Linked DNA regions of Homo sapiens. The protein of the gene in region 2 interacts with the protein of the main gene of each other region in a biochemical or structural test. Each region holds a gene or a part of one and is shown on either strand. Other genes may lie near its edges.

The links.
Region 1: the proteins of USP4 (region 2) and RBL1 form a complex in vitro, tested with the Homo sapiens proteins (one study listed by BioGRID).
Region 3: the proteins of USP4 (region 2) and NLK form a complex in vitro, tested with the Homo sapiens proteins (one study listed by BioGRID).

What each region holds. Positions count from the first base shown.
Region 1 is NC_000020.11:37,064,961-37,068,614, forward strand, and holds part of RBL1 (retinoblastoma-like protein 1), read right to left. Parts: intron 3,227-3,654; coding exon 3,026-3,226; intron 2,338-3,025; coding exon 2,273-2,337; intron 2,162-2,272; coding exon 2,033-2,161; intron 1,925-2,032; coding exon 1,764-1,924; intron 514-1,763; coding exon 464-513; intron 1-463. UniProt on the Homo sapiens protein: Key regulator of entry into cell division. Directly involved in heterochromatin formation by maintaining overall chromatin structure and, in particular, that of constitutive heterochromatin by stabilizing histone methylation.
Region 2 is NC_000003.12:49,326,522-49,330,175, forward strand, and holds part of USP4 (ubiquitin carboxyl-terminal hydrolase 4), read right to left. Parts: intron 1,296-3,654; coding exon 1,165-1,295; intron 1-1,164.
Region 3 is NC_000017.11:28,168,148-28,171,801, forward strand, and holds part of NLK (serine/threonine-protein kinase NLK), read left to right. Parts: intron 1-300; coding exon 301-510; intron 511-3,654. UniProt on the Homo sapiens protein: Serine/threonine-protein kinase that regulates a number of transcription factors with key roles in cell fate determination. Positive effector of the non-canonical Wnt signaling pathway, acting downstream of WNT5A, MAP3K7/TAK1 and HIPK2.

The DNA.
Region 1 (3,654 bases), on a different chromosome or scaffold from region 2:
TCACTCTGTCACCTAGACTGAAGTGCAGTGGTGCAATCACGGCTCACTGCAACCACAACCTCCCAGATTCAAACGATCCTCCAACCTCAACCTCCCAAGTAGCTGGGACCACAGGCTCACACCACTACGTCTGGCTGATTTTTGTATTTTTTGTAGAGACAGGGTTTCACCATGTTGCCCAGGCTGGTCTCCAACCTTCTGAGCTCAAGCAATCTGCCTGCCTTGGCCTTCCAAAGTGATGGGTTTACAGGTGTGGGCCACCGTGCCTGGCCTTGATTTCTTAAAATAAATGTATTTAAAGCCAACAAGTCTTAGTGATAATAAACATTCAATGCCACTAAAGCAGAGAGAACTTGAATTTGGAGGTCTTACTTTGATATACTGTTATGCTTAACAAATTTCAACAAATCAACAAATATGACAGCTTGTGATAAGCCAGGCACCATTAGTACTAGATATTTACCTATTATCAGTAAAACTTGAAAGGTCCAGGAGGCATTCTCCTTTTAATATCTGTGAACAAAAAATTATTTTGGGACACCATATAATTAAGCATATTAATACACACACAAACGTGAAATTTATCTAAATTTCCATATTGTTATAACACACACACAAAACAGAATTATTAAATATTTCTTTCAGACTAGGATAAACTATTTAGCATGCAAATAACTTTTTTTTTTAACTTTTTTTTTTTTTTGAGACAGGGTTTTGTTCTGTCACCAGGGCTGCAGTGCAGTGGTACAATCATGGCTCACTGCAGCCTCAGCGTGCCAAGTAGCTGGGACTACAGTTGTGCACCACCATGCCCAACTAATTTTTGTATTGTTTGTAGAGACAAGGTTTTGCCATGTTGCTCAGGTTCGTCTGGAACTCTTGGGCTCAAGCAATCCACCTGCCTTGGCCTCCCAAAGTGTTGGGATTACAGGCGTGAGCCACCGCGCCCAGTCCCTGGGATCCTTTAAAAAAAGTTTACTTTGCTAGAGATGTTTAGCATACAGACAATGGGCCATAATATAGATATCTGAGGAACACAAGACTGAATACAAAAATTTGTATAAAAGAAGAAGAAACCAGTAAGGGAAGAATTTATGCTTAAAGAAAAATCTCATAATATTTGAAAAGTGGGATCCATAATCCAAACCCCTCCTTTTACCAAAGAGAAATCTTGAGGCTTAACTACATTTAATGGCTCGACGTTGGGGAAATAAGAAATTGAAACCCAAAGGAACAAGCCAATTCATAAATGTAGAAATAGCTAAGTTAATTACCAAGGAGACAATGTCCAGAATGCACACAGATAGCCTACAAGTGGCTACAAAACTATCATGGATTTTCTGCTCGATTTACATGGAATTAAAACTGTGGTTGTTATACATCATCCTACTTTTAGTCAACAGTCAGCAGTTATTCAAATTGTGGCAGTAAATTAGTCAGCTTATTCTGACCTCCTGTTTTTCCTAATTATTTGTCAGCCCTACTCTGATGTTCTATTCTTTACAATTCTTTATCAGTACCTCCTACGGTTGCCTCTGACAGTACATTTACCCAACAGTACATATAGTTGGTCACATTTTTCAACAGCTCTGTTTCTCACATCACACAAGATCATAAGGAAATTCTGAATCACAGTAGAGGCTAAAGCCTGGGAATCCTGACCCTAAGTTCTATAATGCTGAGAACTTGCTTAAAACATTTTTTTCTTTTCACATTACTGGTGATCTGTAAACATCTCAGTCATCTAATTATAAGTACAGTACCTTCCTGTCAAAGAGTTTTGAAATATATGGCTTAAAGTAGTGCTCCTTTATTCCTTTTGCTTCTACGAGAAGTCCATCATGCAGTTCACACAGTACAGCAATGATGCAGGGTGGCTCTTCAGAAGCCGTAAAGTCAGCAGTATGAAAATCAGATGGTAAACCTAGTTTGACAGTGTAGGAAGGGCAGAGGGAAAAAAAAATAGTCAACTTTTAAAAATCTTTTTCCAAAAACTGATAATCAGTTTTCAAAAATAAATAAAAGGTCTTACCTTTAAATGATGGATTTAGCAAGTCTTGTCTATTTGGGCACATAATCGCATTGGCAAAAATCAGATCCAAGCAGCATAGAAGTAAATGATAAGAGTTTACTAAGTCATCCCCAATCATCCGAAAATTACCTTTATAAGGGAAAAAAAAAAAAAAAAGACACAAAAACCAGAAACCTCTCATGTCAAATAGCACCAAGTTCCCAGAGTAGAAATGTAAGACCACTGAAAGTGTCATCTTACCCTTAGTATAAACAAAAAGTGTCCAACAGAAATTAAACAGATCCTTAACACTGCAAGGAATCCTCCTAAAAAGGGAAAAAAATTACTTTTTGTCTGACTAGCTCGCTAAATATCATGTAAACTGAAATAGTAAATGTAAATATCAAATAGATCAAATTACACATGAAATTCCATTCATGAAGAAAAGTAATCTATTATTTATGAAATGGACTTAAGTAAGCCTTTCCAACCTGCATAAAATAATCAGAACATAGGGCTGGGTGTGGTGGCTCATGCCTGTAATCCCAGCACTCTGGGAGGCCGAGGTGGGTAGATCACCTGAGGTTAGGAGTTCGAGACCACCTTGGCCAACACGGTGAGACCTGGTCTCTACTAAAAATACAAAAAATGAGCCAGACGGGGTGGTGCACACCTGTGATCCCAGCTACTCAGGAGGCTAAGGTAGGAGAATTGCTTGAACCTGGGAGACAGAGGTTGCAGTGAGCCGAGATCAGGACACTGCACTCCAGCCTGGGCAACAGAATGAGACTCCTCAAAAAAAAAAAAAAAAAAAAAAAAACAACAACAGAAAGAAAAATAAGTAAAAGTATTATCCTGAATTTCCAAATATGGATAATTGTACATGGATTTAAAAAGAAAATAATTAAGTTCTTTGCAGGAATACTTTTCATAAAAAACAGACTTTCAAAAAAGTATATTCTCTTAGTTTGTATCATAATCTTTATGTCAATTATATAAGGATTAAGGGCTCACCTCTGCTTCCGGCTTCGTGGTAACTTTGGTGGTTCTTCATATGGATTTTGAAATATATCTAAAAAAATTGGCTCATATTTTTTGAATATTACAGTAGACACCTCAAAATTTCTCTCTAGCCTTTCTATACGTTCACGAAATTCTTGTGGTAGATTTGACATGTCCATCCATTTCTTCATTTTACTAAAAAATTGTATTAAACTAAAAAAAAAAAGGAGGAGAAAAAAGGCACCTTTAAAATTCATTTAAATAATGGATTGAAAGGAAATATTCTATTCATGACTAAGACTCTTTATTAAAAAGCCAGATTTCCCAGGCAACATAGTTAAGACCCCATCTCTACAAAAATTTAAAAAATTAGCTGGGTGTGGTGGCATGTGCCTGTAGCCCCAGGTACTTGGGAGGCTGAGGTGGGAGAATTGCTTGAGCCCAGGATGTCGAGACTGCAGTTAGCCTCAATCATGTACTCCAGCCCGGGTGACAAAGCAAGACACTGTCTTACATGAACAAAGAACAAACACCATCCCTCAAGCCTAAATTTAATTAAAAAAAAAAAGTCCTCACTATGAAATCACTTTCGTTCCCAGGATCACCAGGGGAATACAGGTTATTAATTAGTGGTCATCACA
Region 2 (3,654 bases):
GAGTAGCTGGGACTACAGGGGCCCACCATCATGCCCAGCTAATTTTTGTATTTTTAGTAGAGACAGGATTTCACCATGTTGGCCAGGATGGTCTCGATCTCTTAACCTCGTGATCCGCCTGCCTCAGCCTCCCAAAGTGCTGGGATTACAGGCGTGAGCCACCATGCACGGCCTGATCAAAGACTCTTTTTTTTTTTTTGCAACCGAGTCTCACTCTGTTGCCAGGCTGCAGTACAGTGGGGTGATCTCGGCTTACTGCAACCTCCGTCTCCTGGGTTCAAGCAATTCTCCTGCCTCAGCCTCCCGAGTAGCTGGGACTACAGGTATGTGCCACCACACCCAGTTAATTTTTGGATTTTTAGCAGAGACGAGGTTTCACCATGTTGGCCAGGGTGGTCTTGATCTCCTGACCTCGTGATCCACCCGCCTCAACCTCCCAAAGTGCTGGGATTACAGATGTGAGCCACTGCGCCTAGCTCAAAGACTCTTAAGCATAGAGGGAAAAGCAGTATCATAAAGGTTTTTTAAGATAAACAAGATGCAGGACATTAGCTATATGTCCATATGCCCCCAGTGAACTTTCTCTCATAGAATTTTCCAGAAAGTTCTCTCACAGCGCTGCTGGGCACATTCCAAGCCACTGGGCAGCTCTGATGTTTAGAGGCCACTCATGATAATATTCTGGGTGAGCAACTTCACTCACAACCACAATTTCCTAAAGAGAACCAGAAACAGGCTGGGCGTAGTGGCTCACGCCTGTAATCCCACCACTTTGGGGGGCCGAGTCGGGCGGATCACAAGGTCAAGAGTTTGAGACCAGACTGGCCAACATGGCGAAACCCCGTCTCTACTAAAAATACAAAAATTGGCCAGGCGTAGTGAAAGGCGCCTGTAATCCCAGCTACTCAGGAGGCTGAGGCACGAGAATCACTTGAACCTGGGAGCCAGAGGCTGCAGTGAGCCGAGATCGTGCCGTTGCACTCCAGCCTGGGCGACAAGTGCACAAGACTCCATCTCAAAAAAAAAAGAGATCCAGAAACAAGGCCTCAAGCACCACTATTCAACCACTGAGGTATGTTCATTTTCCTAGCAAACACTAGTCAGTGTCCAACAGAAAGCACCTGCAGACAGTGACCAGCAGGTGGGACAATTCACATAACTCACTTTTCTGACGATGGGTTGCTGGCCTTCTACACAGCCGTACCAGTTTAGTAGTTTATTCCACGCCTCGGTAGGGACCAATACATAGTCCAATTCATCAATTAAGTGTTCTTTCAAGGTCTGACTCTCAGGATCTAAAAAAGGAAAAGAGCACATAAGTCACTGCTCTTTACCCCAGAAATGATGGTTTTACATGATTTCCATGTACTTTTCAGAAATAAGAAAATTATTTACAGAAAGAAACAGGAATGAAATTCCAAAATTCTGTCACTGGTCATTATACAGAGCAGACTTTTGTCTTTATCCATGTTTTCTCTTTATCCATGAAGATTTTATGAGGAATTTGTATTTCTTCTATAATTGGAGGGAGAGAAGAGGATAAAAAAGAAAAACTCCAGGCTGGGTGTGGTGGCTCACACCTGTAATCAGCACTTTCGGAGGCTGAGGCGGTTGGATCATGAGGTCAGGAGTTTGAGAGCAGCCTGGCCAACATGGTGAAACCCCGTCTCTACTAAAAATATAAAAATTAGCCGGGTGTGGTAGCGGGCACCTGTAGTCCCAGCTACTCGGGAGGCTGAGGCAGGAGAATTGCTTGAACCCGGGAGGCAGAGGTTGCAGTAAGCCAAGATCACGCCACTGCACTCCAGCCTGGTGAAAGAGCAAGACTCCATCTCAAAAATAAATAAATCATACATGAGGTGGTTATGGTTTCCCACCATCCCTCCGACTAGTTTACACACCTTTTTCAGGGCAGGGTTCCTTTGTTGTCATTTCAACAATGCTCATAACATCTTCACCAGACATAGATTCCATCTCAAGAAACCATTTTCTTTGCTCACCCATAAGAAGCAACTCCTCAGCCATTCAAGTTTTATCATAAGATTAAAGCAATTCAGGCCGGGCATGTTGGCTCATGCCTGTAATTCCAGCACTTTGGGAGGCTGAGGCAGGCAGATCACTTGAGGTCAGGAATTCAAGATCAGCCTGGCCAACATGGTGAAACCCCATTTCTAGTAAAAATACAAAAATTAGCTGGGCATGGTGATGCATGCCTGTAGTCCCAGCTACTCGGGAGGCTGAGGCATAAGAATTGCTTGAACCCAGGAGGTGGAGACTGCAGTGAGCCGAGATACCCCACTGTACTCCAGCCTGGGTGACAGAGCAAGACTCTGTCTCAAAAGAAATAAAAATAAATAAAAATTAAAATTAAAAATAGGCCAGGCGCAGTGGCTCACACCTGTAATCCCAGCACTTTCGGAGGCCGAGGTGGGCAGATCATGAGGTCAGGAGTTCAAGACCAGCCTGGCCAGGGTAGTGAAACCCCGTCTCTACTACAAACACAAAAATTAGCTGGGCATGGTGGTGCACACCTGTAGCCCAGCTACTTGGGAGGCTGAGGCAGGAGAATTGTTTGAACCCAGGAGGCGGAGGTTGCAGTGAGCCAAGATTGCGCCACTGCACTCCAGCCTGGGTGACACAGCGAAACTCCATCTCAAAAAAAATAAAAATAAAAGTAAAAATAAAAAATAAAGCAATTCAGTCACATCTTCAGGCTTCACTTCTAATTCTAGTTCTCTTGCTATTTCCACTTTTGCTGTTACTTCTCCCACTGATGTCTTGAGCCCGTTGAAGTCATCCGTAAGTGTTGGAATGAACTTCTTCCAGACTCCTATTAATGTTGATTTTGACCTCCCATGAATCATGAATATTTTTGTGTGTGTGTGTGGGCAGGTGGGAGTGGCAGGCCTTACTCTATCACCCAGGCTGAAGTGCAGTGGCATGATTACAGCTCACTGCAGCTTCGACCTCCCAGACTCAAGCAATCCTCCTGCCTTAGTCTCCCAAGTAGCTAGAACTACAGGTGCATGCCACCAGGCCTAGCTAATTTTCGTATTTTTTATAGGGATGGGGTTTTGCCAAGTTGCCCACCCTAGTCTCCAATTCCTGGGTTCAAAGGATCCACCTACTTCAGCCTGCCAAAGTCCTGGGATTATAGGTATAAGCCACTGCACCAGGTGGAATCATGAATATTCTTAATGGCATCTAGAATGGTAAATCCTTTCCAAAAGGTTTTCAATTTAATTTGCCCAGATCCTTCAGGAGAATCACTATCTATGGCAGATAAAGTCTTATAAAATGTATTTCTTAAATAATAAGACTTGAAAGTTGAAATCAAATCAGGCACGCTGGCTCAGGCCTGTAATCCCAGCACTTCGGCAGGCTGAGGCGGGAGGATCACTTGAGGTCAGAAGTTTGAGACCAGCCTGGCCAACATGGTGAAACCTGGTCTCTACTAAAAATACAAAAATTAGCCAGGTGGAGGGACGGGCACCTGTATCCCAGCTACTCAGGAGGCTGAGGCAGGAGAATTACTTGAACCTGGTAGGAGGAGGCAGGAGAATTGCTTGAACCTGGGAGGGAGAGGTTGCAGGGAGCCAAGACTGAGCCACTGCACTCCAGCCTGGGCAACAGAGTGAGACTCTGTCTCAAAAC
Region 3 (3,654 bases), on a different chromosome or scaffold from region 2:
AACCCCTTCTCTACTAAATAATACAAAAAAAAAAAAAAATTAGCCAGGCGTGGTGGTAGGCACCTGTAGTCCCAGCTATTCGGGAGGCTGAGGCAGAAGAATCCCTTGAACCCAGGAAGCAGAGGTTGCAGTGAGCTGAGATTGTGCCACTGCACTCCAGCCTGGGTGACAGAGTGAGACTCCATCTCAAAAAAAAAAAAAAAAGTTTCAAAGTTCAGTGCCCTATCAAAATTTTGATGTTTTGTTTTACTCTTTCATTTGTATTTGCTTGATAATGTTTTGATTGCCTTTTCTGTCTAGATTTGTGATTTTGGATTGGCCAGAGTGGAAGAATTAGATGAATCCCGTCATATGACTCAGGAAGTTGTTACTCAGTATTATCGGGCTCCAGAAATCCTGATGGGCAGCCGTCATTACAGCAATGCTATTGACATCTGGTCTGTGGGATGTATCTTTGCAGAACTACTAGGACGAAGAATATTGTTTCAGGCACAGAGTCCCATTCAGCAGGTATGATTTCAATTTAAGGCTTTAGTTGCAATTCTATTGCAGATTTGAAGGAAAATCCATCTTGCACATGTGTCTTGGGCTTATTCATTATACTGTCTAATTTGCTTTTAGGAAATTCAGGTTCACTTAAAATTCAGAAAGTTATAAAGTTGAAGATTACAAAGAGATTCATTTTGTAACTTATGAGCCTTTAGAGGGAGTATTGAGTTTATTTATGTATTTATTTATTATTATTATTATTTTTTGAGACGGAGTTTTGCTCTTGTTGCCCAGGCTGGAGTGCAATGGTGCCATTTTGGCTCACTGCAACCTCCACCTGCCAGGTTCAAGCGATTCTCCTGCCTCAGCCTCCCAAGTAGCTGGGATTACAGGCACGCTCCACCACACCTGGCTAGTTTTTGTATTTTTAGTAGAGACAGGGTTTTGCTGTATTGGCCAGGCTGGTCTCGAACTCCTGACCTCAGGTGATCCACCTGCCTCAGCCTCCCAAAGTGCTGGGATTACAGGCATGAGCCACTGCACCCGGCCAGTTGACTTTATTATATGCACTGATGCATAGCTGTGAGCTCTGCTATGACAATTTGCACAGGTATAATCTTCAGTTGTTAGAAGGCCTCTCTTCCTTCTAAGTGAATGGCTCTGACTTGAAAATGTATTGGTGACTTAATGTACTTACACTTTGTGCTTAGAATATAAATTTTTAGTGTGTTGATTTCTTGAAATCTGAACATTTAGGAAAATTTCTAACCTTTATTATTGGACTAAAATATCTAAATATGGCAGAGAACATCAGGAGATGATTAAAATATAATTTCCTCAGAGAATCCTTTAGAAGCCATTCATGTTACTTGAATTGTCTTTAAAGCTAATTATTCACTAATACACATATTGACATAATTACTGGGTATTTTGTATTAATTTGCTTGCATGAAAATAATGTAGTAACTATGAGCTCAGGCTGTGAAATCAGATTGGTGGGTTCAAATCCTAGCTGCACCACTTATGTTAAATCTTGGGTAAGTTACTTAACCTCTGTGTTCCTTTTTTTTTGCTGCTTCTTCTTCTTTTTTTTTTTTTTTTTTGGCCCCTAAAACTGTTCTGAGGATTGTTGTACAATGAAGTAGGAAAGCTGAAAACGGGGCCTGGCACATAGTAAGCACTCTGTAAATGTTTGCAATTACGATGGTGGTAGTGTGCCAGGACTCTAGGGATACAGCAGTAAATAAGACAGCATTGTTCTTAACCTTTGTGAAACTTTTACATGAGACAAAAATAAATATGCAAATAAATATGATTCCAAGTAATGGAAGTTCCATAAAGAAAAATGTAGCCAGGTTAGGGACAGACAATGGTGGCAGAGCAGAGCAGGCACTAAAGGATTCTCTGAGGATATAACATTTCACCCACATAAAATAAGGCAGTAAGATGCTGGAGAAATGTTCCAAGAAGAGGGACAACCACCATAACAAAGCCCCTGAGGCAGGAACAAGCATGGCATGTTGGAGGGAAGGTATGTGATGGAAGACGCTGTAGGAAATGAGGTCAGAAAGTGAGAAAGAACCTGGCCATGGTGACATGATAAAGCCTTAAGATTTTATTCTAAGTGTGATAGAAAACTTAAATGAAGGTTTTGACCAAAGGAATACTAAGATTTGATTGATGACATTTTAAAAGATCACACTGACTACTGTGTCTTTGTAAATAATTAATGCACTTGACCAGACAGAATTATTTCTTTTATGCTTTTTCTACAAAGAATTTTTACCTAATATGTTAGAAACTATATCTGCTTTTATCAACATTTAAATTTTTCTATGCTATACGTTTTAACTGTCTTTTTTAAAGTTTACATCTTAAAAATTGATTCTGGTGTTAAAAAAATTATGTACATATAATACTTAATCTAATGTTGGGTACTTTTGACAATATTCACTTTTCAATTTCTTCAGAAAGTAAAGTTTAACAGACTTAACCTGTAAGACTATCATATCTGGACATAAGCTGTCATAAAATGGATGTGACTACTACCTTGCATACAGAAAAGCTTAAGTAAAAAATAATAAGGAAGTATTCAAATCCTATATATGGAACAAGAATCTTGAATTGCTGCTGCAAAAAATATGTGAGGGAAAGTGTGAAGCAACTGGACTGGAGTTCAGATATCCCTTTGCTAGAGAAATACATAGATCTTCAGTTTGGCAGTCTGACATAGCCACTGCAGGAGAATTCATGTCTGTCTAATTGTTGGTGTGTGTTGGGGTGAGAAATGAAGATCTAAAATAGGAAAAGGCTCTAACTTCTAATGGAAGTCATTATTTCCTGTTGTATTTTCTCTGTATCTTTGAGATTTAATTACCCTGGTACTAGCAGACATCATAAAAGTGTTTCTCATGTATGGATCTGACCCATTTTAGACAACTTTCTGAATGTTTCAGTTTGTTTTTATAAGCTAGTCATTTCCTTCTGCCTTTAGTGTGGTTGTTAGAGATCCAAAAGTATCACCTACACACTTTTCCCAAAAAGCTTTGTATAGAGATCTTTATTTCTGTGGAAAGCAAGCTTCTCAAGTATCTCCATTAACCTGTAGGGTGTTGATGCTGATGGCTACCCCATGGTTTAGATAAGTGCAGAAAATAGTGCTTTATATTCGGCAAGCCCAGAACCAGGAAAAGAAGTGTTCTCTAGGTAAGAATTTCCCATCCTGGAAGGATCCAAATGAAATGTTATTGCTAATTAGGTTATGAAGTTAGAACAATTGTGACACTACAGAAAATTGGTAAGATAGTTTGCTACCCAAAGACTTGTTTGCAAGAAGACTGTTTTATTGGTCTCTTTTATTGTGTCCAGCTAGCTAAATGTGGTCTTATGTGGTGTCATATTTTTCTAAGTGTCACAGTTTTCTGCCAGCGTAAGAGATTTCTAGCATGACTAGAATGTAAAGGATGTGTACTGGCCCAAGCATGGAGAGCTTAGCTTTCATTTCAGGTGTGAATATTTTCAGTATTTATTAAATCACAGGTGTCTGATTTGTGGATTAGCACCTTGGTGAGCCTGAATCCATTTGAAGCATCAGAATCCATTCATTAACTGTTTGGAAAGAATAGTCATTAGGCATCAACAGAAGAGGAGTTCAACTTTGCAAAG